Homo sapiens: one gene and its partners. The protein of the gene in region 2 purifies or fractionates together with the protein of the main gene of each other region. This does not show direct contact. Each region holds a gene or a part of one and is shown on either strand. Other genes may lie near its edges.

Region 1 (3,662 bases), on a different chromosome or scaffold from region 2:
AGTGTGATGACATTGACTGATGGGACAGGGTGAGCATCCTAGGCATAGGGAATAGCATGTAAGAGACACAGTGGCACAGAAGTAGATGTCACAAAGATTCTCACATATTTTGATTGGATAACTTTATAAAGTCTTTCAACTCAGAGATTTTTACATTTAAGGTATGTTGCTGATCTCTTTTCTCTTAACAAAATTATTTTAGTAACTACTAAAGTACAATTTTCAAAAAGCTCAAACATGAGTCTTATACAAATATAAAATTTGACTGCTCAAAATTTTATGCAACTCATTAATGAGGGAACAAATAAGATATTTATACAGGGTCAAAGGAGAATTTGAGGAAAATAGATTTATGGAGTTGGTTTGTCGAAGAAATGTAGAAGTAAATTTGCTGATAGATTTTTAAAATTTGCTAATAGGAAAATATGACTTATAAAGCAATGTAGCTTCTAGAATTACCTTTTCTACTGGACAGAAATCATTTGTATTGCTTTGAATAAGAGTCTGTTTACATTGCTCTTAGATAAGAATCTTTAGCATTGTTTTCTACCAGCCAACCTCTATTTTTACAGAATTGTAAAGTATTTTAATAGTGAGTAGAAAATTAAACAGAGGTACATACGCCTAGAAAATCACATAACTCCTTAAGGGGGTAAATAAAAGGATACTCACTAACCCTTTCCTTTTGACTATTTCTAAGTTTTAGATAATTTTTCACAACATCAGTAATACAAGATGGGTTGTTAGTATAATGAAGGAAATACCAAGGAAAGATTTTAAGTTTCTCCTATATTAAGCACATGATAGAATTCCTATGGCATTTTTGTCTTTGTACATCATTTAAAAATTAACTGTGTACCTGTCTTGATTTCACTTTTATCATTGCCTTGAAGCTTTTAAATTATTTATTGTTTAGTATTTTGCACATTTATATTTCATCCTTGATTTGATTGCAGGCTTCTCTAAGGAGAAGGCCTTTGGCTACTTTGTATTCTCTATTGTACCTAGCACACATGGCACCTTGCACACAGTAGGAATTCAATAAATATTAAGTGACTGAATATGATATCTTCTTGGAACCAACATATATTTGAAAAAGTGGTTATATTCTTGGATCAGGACACAGTCCGGCATCAAGTTACTGAATCTTATATTTTAGATTTGTTGTGATACCTGTACATCAATTAGTAATGGTACTTTTTTTTTTATTTTGTTCTATTAGTGGTGATTTACTCAGAATAGGAAGAAAAGCCCTGTATTCAATTTTAGATGAAGTTATTTTCAAGCTTTTTTCAACTCCTAGTCCAGTTATAAGAAGTACTGCTACAAAACTCCTACTGTTGATGGCTGAATCCCATCAGGAAATTTTGATTTTACTGAGACAAAGTACCTGCTACAAAGGTAGTACATTCATTCTTTCTTTTCTTGGGATTCTCAAAAAGAAAATTTTTATTGATGGTTTATGAAAAACAAAATTCTTATATTTTAAAGAGTTGATAACTGACCTATGTAGATAAAACTCACAACAGATACCAATTCAGAAAAAAAAAAGTCTTTATATAATCAAGCTATCTTCATGTCACTACAGATAGCATGTGGAAGATACTTTTCTGATCAGGTTGCCATAAATATTTACTCCCTCTCTGACAAAAAGGTTTTGTGTGTTGAATATACCATATAGTATAGTAAAATAATGACCAAAAAGATCAGTGACCTTATCAAGACCAGCTTTAGTGGAGAAAATGGAGCTGTGCTTGAGAGGCCAGTGGCCCTTATGGTATTTTGAACTATCAATAATTACTTAACACTGCCTTTCCTCAAAAACAAACAAAAAAAATTGCCTTACCTCCAAAATCAAATACATATGTGAATTAAAAGTCAGAAATTTTGAGGATAAAAGGAGTAAGCGTATATACATTCTCATATAATAGCTTTCATTTAATTGAGCATTTACTGTGTGTCAGGCACATTCCATATACTTTATATGCATTAAAATGTTTAATCTTTACAACAATCCTATGGGATAGATATTCTTATCCTTATTTTATAGATATAGAAACAGAGACATGGTAATTTGCCCAAGATCACAAAGGTAGTATATATATTGTTTAATTGCCAAGCAAAGTTATATGTTATCTTTGTTTTATTTCTTTGCTGACCAGAGCCATGTATGTATTATAATCTATTTTTCTTATTCAGCGTGGTCAGGAAATGGGATTCTAGTTCATTAAATATACTTATTAACATAGGGTTATACTGTATGGGAATTTTTAAAGGTTAGAATATAATATGATGCATTTAATACCTAAACAACTAGAAAGGTCTTTATCATTCTTGATGATTTTGAAGACATTGTAATAATGTACCTTGAATTAGTCATTACTGAGGGTATTGTAGGAATAGAGAAGGAAAGTACCAGTAATAGAGCTCTTTAGTTGATATTGTGCCAGATAGACATTTTTCAATTCTGTAATTCAATTCCTAAAGAAATGTGAATGTCCAACAGAGTCGTTATAAAGGAATTTTACCTGAATCCTTCTCCCTTTCTTTGACTTATATCTCAATAGCAGAACTTATTCAGATTCCTGAAGATATTTTACAATTATTAATACTGCTGAGAACTTGGGTGTTGAAGAGAGTATAAGGCATTAAAAGATCCATATAGTGGTTTCCCCAATTATACACTACAAGGCAATTTTACCTTATGTATTTATTTTGAATACACACATTATAATACATCATTTCAGTGTACCCTGGAAACAGTACTTACTTTGTACCTTTCACTACTACTATGTATTATTTTGGCATGAAAATGTACTATCCTAGTGTTGTAGCACTTCACCTATAATGTTTTCCCAGGAACCTATTGATTTGCCCCAAATTATATATGTTACCATATGTTTATATTTAATAATCTTTTTCAACTAATAATGACTAATAATAATCTGCATAAGTGCTTCCACAGGGCAAGCATTTACTGAATATGTGTCTGTAGTAATTTATCTTTAAAATGTCTCCATTTAAGTATTTTTGTTCAAATAAAAAAAATTTATCTCTACTTTTTGATTTACCACAGTGATTCCATCCCACTCCTTTTTTTTTTTTTTTATTAAAGAGATTGTCTAGACAGATTTTTTTTTTTTTATCAGATACCACAATTGAGCACGTAAGAATTCTCAGGAGGGAGGAATATCTTAAAGATTTCAACCTGGAATTCTCTGAGAAAAGGAAAAAGAAAAATCATATGATTAATCTTGTTTTCATTTGTTTTTAAGCCAGACTTTTTAGCTTCAAATTAATACTGATTAGATAACAAAATCATATTTTATTATTATAATAATAGTTGTACCTTTTGCTATTCCATTTCAGGACTCAGACGTCTACTAAGTAAACAGGAAACTGGGACTGAATTCAGTCAAGAACTTAGACAGCTTGTTGGCCTTTTAAGCCCAATGGTCTATCAGGAAGTAGAAGAGCAGGTATTAAGTTACAAAAAAAAAAAATTGCATGATATTTGCTGACTATATTAAACCTTAGTTTTCCTTAAATGTTCCTCACTTTCTTTCTCTTAAGATTTCAAGCAAAATACCCCCAAAACAGAAATATCTTTAAATTTTTTACTCAGGAGGTTGAGGCAGGAGGATTGCTTGAGTCCAGGAATT
Region 2 (2,849 bases):
GGGATAGTCCTTAAGAGCATGGATCCCAGAGCCAGACTGCTTGGGTTTGACTCCCAGCAGCTCCACTAACTAGCTGTGTGATCTTGGGCAAGTCACTTAAGCTTCCTAGAGCCTGGGTTTCCTCATCTGTAAAATGGAGATAATATAGTACTTCTCTTGCGGGATTGCCATGAGGGTTAAGTGAGTGAGTATGAGTAAAACACCTAGAGTAGTCATGCTGTATAAGTGTTAGCAATTTATTCACTCAATAGGAAACCAAATGAAATATACAAAGTGAGTAAGACATGGTCCTCAATCAGGAAGTTTCAGTTTAACTGGGAAGGTATAAACAGCTGTGGTCATAAATCACCATAAGACGGGCGTGAGCCACCGCACCTTGCCTACGCCCAGCTAATTTTGGTATGTTTAATAGAGACAGGAGTTGGCCATGATGGCCAGGCTGGTCTTGACCTCCTGGCCTCAAGTGTTCCACCTGCCTCAGCCTCCCAAAGTGCTGGGATTACAGGGGTAAGCCAGTGCACCTGGCTGAAGGAGCTGGCCTGATTTTTAAAATTGACATATAATAATTGTATAGTCTGGGTGCAGTGGCTCATGCCTGTAATTGCAGCACTTTGGGAGGCTGAGATGGCAGGATTGCTGGAGCTCAGGAGTTCGACACCAGCCTAGGAAGCATGGCAAAATCCTGCTTCTTTTCTAAATAAATTTTAAAAATAAATAAATATAATAAGTGTACATATTTATGGGATACATAGTGATGTTTCAATACATATGGTGCATAGTGATCCGATCAAGGTAGTTAGCATATCTATCATCTGAAACATTTATCATTTCTTCCTGTTGGGTGATGTAGCAATTTTAATGCTAGTGTGAGTGAAACATCACACCAAAAGATACAAAGTTGCTATTTGAAGACTTCTTAGCATGGACCATCAAAAGATGACCGGCCATGTTCTTATTGTTCTTTTTTTTTTTCCAAAGGGGCCATCCATCCAACCTTTAACTTGAAGAGCCTTTCCTGCAGCCTGGAGGTGTCCAAGGATTCCCGTACAGTGACTGTGTCTCACCGCCCACAACCCTATCGCTGGAGCTGTGAGAGGTTTTCTACCAGCCAGGTCTTATGTTCCCAGGCCCTGTCTTCTGGAAAGCATTACTGGGAAGTGGACACTAGGAATTGCAGCCACTGGGCAGTTGGGGTGGCTTCCTGGGAGATGAGCCGCGACCAGGTCCTGGGAAGGACTATGGACTCTTGTTGTGTGGAATGGAAGGGGACTAGCCAGCTCTCTGCATGGCACATGGTCAAGGAAACTGTCCTTGGCTCAGACAGACCTGGGGTGGTGGGCATCTGGCTGAACCTTGAGGAGGGAAAGCTTGCCTTCTATTCAGTGGACAATCAGGAGAAGCTTCTGTATGAGTGTACCATCTCTGCCTCCTCTCCTTTGTACCCTGCCTTCTGGCTGTATGGCTTACATCCTGGAAATTACCTGATAATAAAGCAAGTAAAGGTGTAAGGTTTCCTAAGGGATTACAACACAGTGGTTTCCTGGTCTCTCTCCCTGTCATCAATCAGGGTAGTAACTTGACTTAAGAATACCACTTTTTAGAAAAATTACGATAGAGATGGGATCTCACTAGGTTGCCCAGGCTGGTGTCGAATTCCTGGTCTCAAGCAGTCCTCCCACCTCAGCCTCCCAAGGTGCTGGGATTACAGGTGTGAGCCACCACACCTGGCCAAGAATACCACTTTTGAAGTTAATCCTTTTGTGTGATACAGGATGAACTTGGGATGTTTGAACCCTGGACATTCCAAATAAAGAATAGGCCCCTGCCTGGCTCCTGGGAGATAACCTCTAAGCCATTAGAATATCTTGCCTGATAAGAGTGTTTTTGTTTACCTGTGGGCCTTGGGCCATGCAGTATCAGCTTGACCTTGCAAGGTCAAGCTGAGGAGACTAAGTTAGCCATGTGGGCAGTGAAGCATGCCAATGTGATCAATCCCTAGTAAAAGCCCTGGACACCTAGGCATGGGTGAGCTACTCTGGTTGGTAATACTCTGTGCACACATCATTGTAGCCACACATCATTGCTGGGAGAATTAAGCATTATCCTGAAGACTCTGCCAGGAGAGGATAATTGGAAGTTCTCTTGGACCTTACCTTATGTGCCTTTCTTCATTGCTGATTTTAATCTGTATCCTTTCACTGTAATAAACTGTAACTATGAGTGCAACACTTTGCTGAGTTCTGTGAGTCCTTCTAGTGAATCACTGAACCTGAGGGCAGTCTCAGAGGATCTCTAAACATAATTTGCTACTTATCAGTTGCTATGTAAGAATATTGCCACAAATTTAATGGTTTAAAATAACACATAGATATTATTTCACAGTTTCTGTGAGTCAGGAGTCAGAGCATAGCTTAGCTGAGTCTCCTACATCAGAGTTTTACAAGCTGCAATCAACATGTCAGCTGGGGACACAGGGTCATCTGAGGCTCCAATGGGGAAGGATCTGCCTCCAAATTACATGGTCATTGGCAGCCTTCAGTTCTTGAGTTGCCGGACTGAGGGCCTCAGTTTCTTTCTGGTTGTTGGCTGGAGACCGCCCTCAGTTCCTTACCCCATAGGCCTTTGCAACACAGCTGCTTGTTTCCTCAAAGACAATAAGGGAGAGGGTCTCCTAGCCAGATGACGCAAAATCTTTTTTTTTTTTTTGAGACGGAGTCTCACTCTTGATGCCCAGGCTGGAGTGCAGTGGTGTGATCTGGGCTCACTGCATCCGCCGCCTTCCAGTTTCAAGCAATTCTCCTGCCTCAGCCTCCCGAGTAGCTGGGATTACAGATGTCTGCCACTACGCC
Region 3 (3,662 bases), on a different chromosome or scaffold from region 2:
AAAATTATTTCCTAAACATCAAAAGTTATATATGAAGATGTATATTTCCTCAGTCTCATTTATAATAGTAAAACTTGGTACAAACCCTAAACGTCCAAAAAAAGAGAAATGGTCAAGTAAATAGAGGCATATGTAAAAAATTATGCAGAGGGATAAATGAATAAATGATGAATGAATGAATGTGCTATTGTTTATTCATATTACACAATAGCATATATATATGTTAGATCTACATAGGTACACGTTTAGATAAAACAGGCAAGCTGCAAATATATATAATTATGCAAGTTTTTAAAACAATTCTAACATGAGTTAATATTTGGAAAAAGTTACAAAATATATATGAGAATAATACCCTCCAAAATTGGTGACCAGGTACCAGAAGAAAGGGGGTAGGTAGTCAGGGGGTTAGACTTTAGTTGGTATTATTTATTCATGCACATAATTGTATTTATCTTTCTCTAAAAGAGAACTGAAGCAAAATGTAAAAAATGTTAAATCTAGATCATTAATAAGATGGTTATCTATTTTATAATTTTTGGTACTTTTCAGGTTATTTAAAGACACTATTAAGACAGTAAAGATGGATACGCTAATTACCCTGATTTGATAATTACACATTGTATACATGTATCAAAATATCACTCTGTATGCAATAAATATGTACAATTATTATATGTCATCTAAAAATAAAAGTGGTGGAAAAAGGGCAAAACAAGGAGTAGACGATACTTGCAACACTAATATCTGACAGAGAATTAATATCCAGAACATACAAAGAATTTTTTCAATGACTAAAAGGCACATGACCTAATAGAAAAATAAGCAAAAGATTTGAGTAGGCATTTCATAAAGAAGATATCCACATATCCAATAACTACACAGATAAGTACTAAACCAGAGTTGTCATTAGGGGAACACAAACTAAAACCACATTCTACTCCACAAGAATGGCTACAATGAAAAAGACAGAATTCCAAACATTAGCAAAAAAGAAAAAAAACACCAATAACATTGCTGGTGGGAGTATAAACTCGTATTAAATACTTTGGAAAGAGGTTTGGCAGTACCTACAAAAGCTAAATATACATACACCTTAGTGTTCAGAGCAGCACTCTTTTTTATTTTTTAACTTTTATTTTGGGTTTGGGGTACAAGAGAAGGTTTGTTACATAGGTAAACACGTGTCATGGTGGTTTATTGCACATGTTATTTCATCACCCAGGTATTAAGTCCAGTTATCTTTCAGTTAGTTATCTTTTCTACTCTTCTCCCTCTTCCCACCCTCCCCACTCAAGTAGATCCCAGTGTCCGCTGTTGCCTTCTTTGTGTTCATAAGTTCTTATCATTTAGCTCCCACTTGTAAGTAAGAGCATGTAGTATTTGGTTTTCTCTTCTTGCATTACTTTGCTAAGGATAATATCCTCCAGCTCCATCCATGGTCCCGCAAAAAAGATCTCATTCTTTTTTATGGCTGCATAGTATCCCATTGTGTGTTTAAAACAGGAAAAGTATAGCAGTCAAATTACTGAGCAGAGGAAAATGAAAGAACTGGATTCAAAAAAAAAATTTTCATCGTTATAAAAATGTTTAAACATACAGAAAAACTGAATACCCATATACATAGTGTCTAGACTCAACAACTGTTAACATTTTGCTCAAACTGCTTTTATCTGTATCTGTATGCATATGTTAAAATTTATTAATTTGCATAAAGTAAAATTCTTCTTGCCTTTTCTAAAGTATCAGATAAATGGAGTCATTCAATACATAATTTTTTAAATCTGGCTTCTTGCATTAAGAACAATGCATGTGAGTTGCATCCAAGCATGTATCAATTAAGAACCACACTGTAACTGATACAAAGGTAATCTTTAATTCAAAAGGCTTTATTATTATTAGGTAGATCTTTTTGATCAGTTAATAAAGAGATAAAGTTGGTCTGCCACAATGGTTTACTCCTGTAATCTCAACATGCTGAGAAGCTAAGATGGGAGGATTACTTAAGGCCAAGAGTTTGAGAGCAACCTTGGCAACATACTGAGATCCCATCTCTACAAATAAATGAAAAAATCAGCCAGGCGTGGTGGTGGCATGTGCCTGCAGTCCCAGCTACTCAGGAGGCTGAGTGAGCAGGAGGATCACTTGAGCCCAGAAGGTGAAGGTTACAGTGAGCTATGACAGTGCCACTGCCCTCCAGCCTGGGTGACTGGCTGGCTCACTTAAATGTAATTTTTTATACACCTCAGATATACGATCAATGAGGAAACAAGAAGACACTTTTATATTATTTTTCATCCTAAGGGCAGAAAACCATATTTTTAGCATGGTATGACCCAAGTAAGGAAATTATTTAAAGCATTAATTATACTGTTTGCATTCTGTGGCTCTTTAAAACAATGAGGTACATTCCCTCTTTTAGAGAAATAAGTTACCACATAATACAGTCACTGTTACACAAGTAATAGAATATAATTTTATTCCTACCTGATCATCATCTTCTACAACCACCAAGGTTAATTTATTCTTCTTAAAATCCAATCTGGTTATCTTCGGCCTATAATATAATAAGAGAATAAAAGCCAAATTACAAACAAATGTTCTCTAAATATGAAAAAAATTGTTTTTATTTCAAATACATTTAACCATCTAACTCCTGAACTAAAAATTGACAGGACGGTAAACGTAACTTGCAATGCCCATCAAAAGACAGGAAACAGAAAAACACAGTACATATTTCAAAAGCAAATCTCAGACAAAATTGAGGTTGCACATATCAGACATTAAAAATGTTAAGGAAAATGAAATCTATGTATTTGATAGGTCTCGATTATGGTGTAAGAGATTCTTTAGGTCTAGGGAAAATTGTTCCAGTGTTAAAGCAGAGCAGCAGCATAGGAACTAGACATAGGAACGACCATAAAGCTTAAAAAAAACAGCCATAAAGAAAAACACTGACGATGGTTTTCAACTCTTTTTGTTTGTTTGAGATAGGTTCTCCCTCCATTACACAGGGTGGACTGCAGTAGTGTGTTCACAGCTCACTGCAGCCGTGAACTTCCAGGCTCCAGTAATCCTCCTGCCTCAGCCTTACTCCCACACCACACCAGGCTAATTTTTGTATTCTTTGTAGAGACGGCATCTCGCTACGTTGCCCAGGCTGGTCTCAAATTCCTGGGCTCAAGTGATCCGCATACCCTGGTCTCCCAAAGTGTTGGAATTCAGACGTGAGCCACTGCAACCAGCCTCAACTCTGTTTTCAACAGGAATTTTGGGTAGAGGAAATACTTCTTAATTTTTTTAACCTCGCTTTATGGCCCGCTTTCCAACTGTATCTCCCTACTTGTAAATTCCAAACCACCTACCACACATTTGAACTCTGTATTTCCATAAATTGTGAATGTCGAAACAATGTGACACTCCGATTGACTAATCTTTAAATATAACATATAAAATAGATGTAAAACATAACTTTACAAGAGCTTTACTAAAACAATAATGAAGAAATAATAGCAGGAAAAAGAAAGGAAACAGAATCTCACTCTGTCACAAAGGCTGGAGTGCAGTGGCGTGATCTTGGCTCACTACAACCTCCACCTCCCAGGTTCAAGCAATTCTCCTGCCTCAGCCTCCAGAGTAGCTGGGATTACAGGTGCGTGCCA

What was found.
Region 1: the proteins of RNF135 (region 2) and IQCB1 purify together in Homo sapiens (affinity purification with mass spectrometry; 2 studies listed by BioGRID and IntAct, with this or other methods). This does not show direct contact.
Region 3: the proteins of RNF135 (region 2) and EPB41L5 purify together in Homo sapiens (affinity purification with mass spectrometry; 2 studies listed by BioGRID and IntAct, with this or other methods). This does not show direct contact.

The regions. Positions count from the first base shown.
Region 1 is NC_000003.12:121,796,935-121,800,596, reverse strand, and holds part of IQCB1 (IQ calmodulin-binding motif-containing protein 1), read left to right. Parts: intron 1-1,222; coding exon 1,223-1,401; intron 1,402-3,369; coding exon 3,370-3,479; intron 3,480-3,662. UniProt on the Homo sapiens protein: Involved in ciliogenesis. The function in an early step in cilia formation depends on its association with CEP290/NPHP6.
Region 2 is NC_000017.11:30,997,684-31,000,532, forward strand, and holds the end of RNF135 (E3 ubiquitin-protein ligase RNF135), read left to right. Parts: intron 1-978; coding exon 979-1,508; 3' UTR 1,509-2,228; downstream 2,229-2,849.
Region 3 is NC_000002.12:120,086,066-120,089,727, reverse strand, and holds part of EPB41L5 (band 4.1-like protein 5), read right to left. Parts: intron 2,558-3,662; coding exon 2,488-2,557; intron 1-2,487. UniProt on the Homo sapiens protein: Plays a role in the formation and organization of tight junctions during the establishment of polarity in epithelial cells.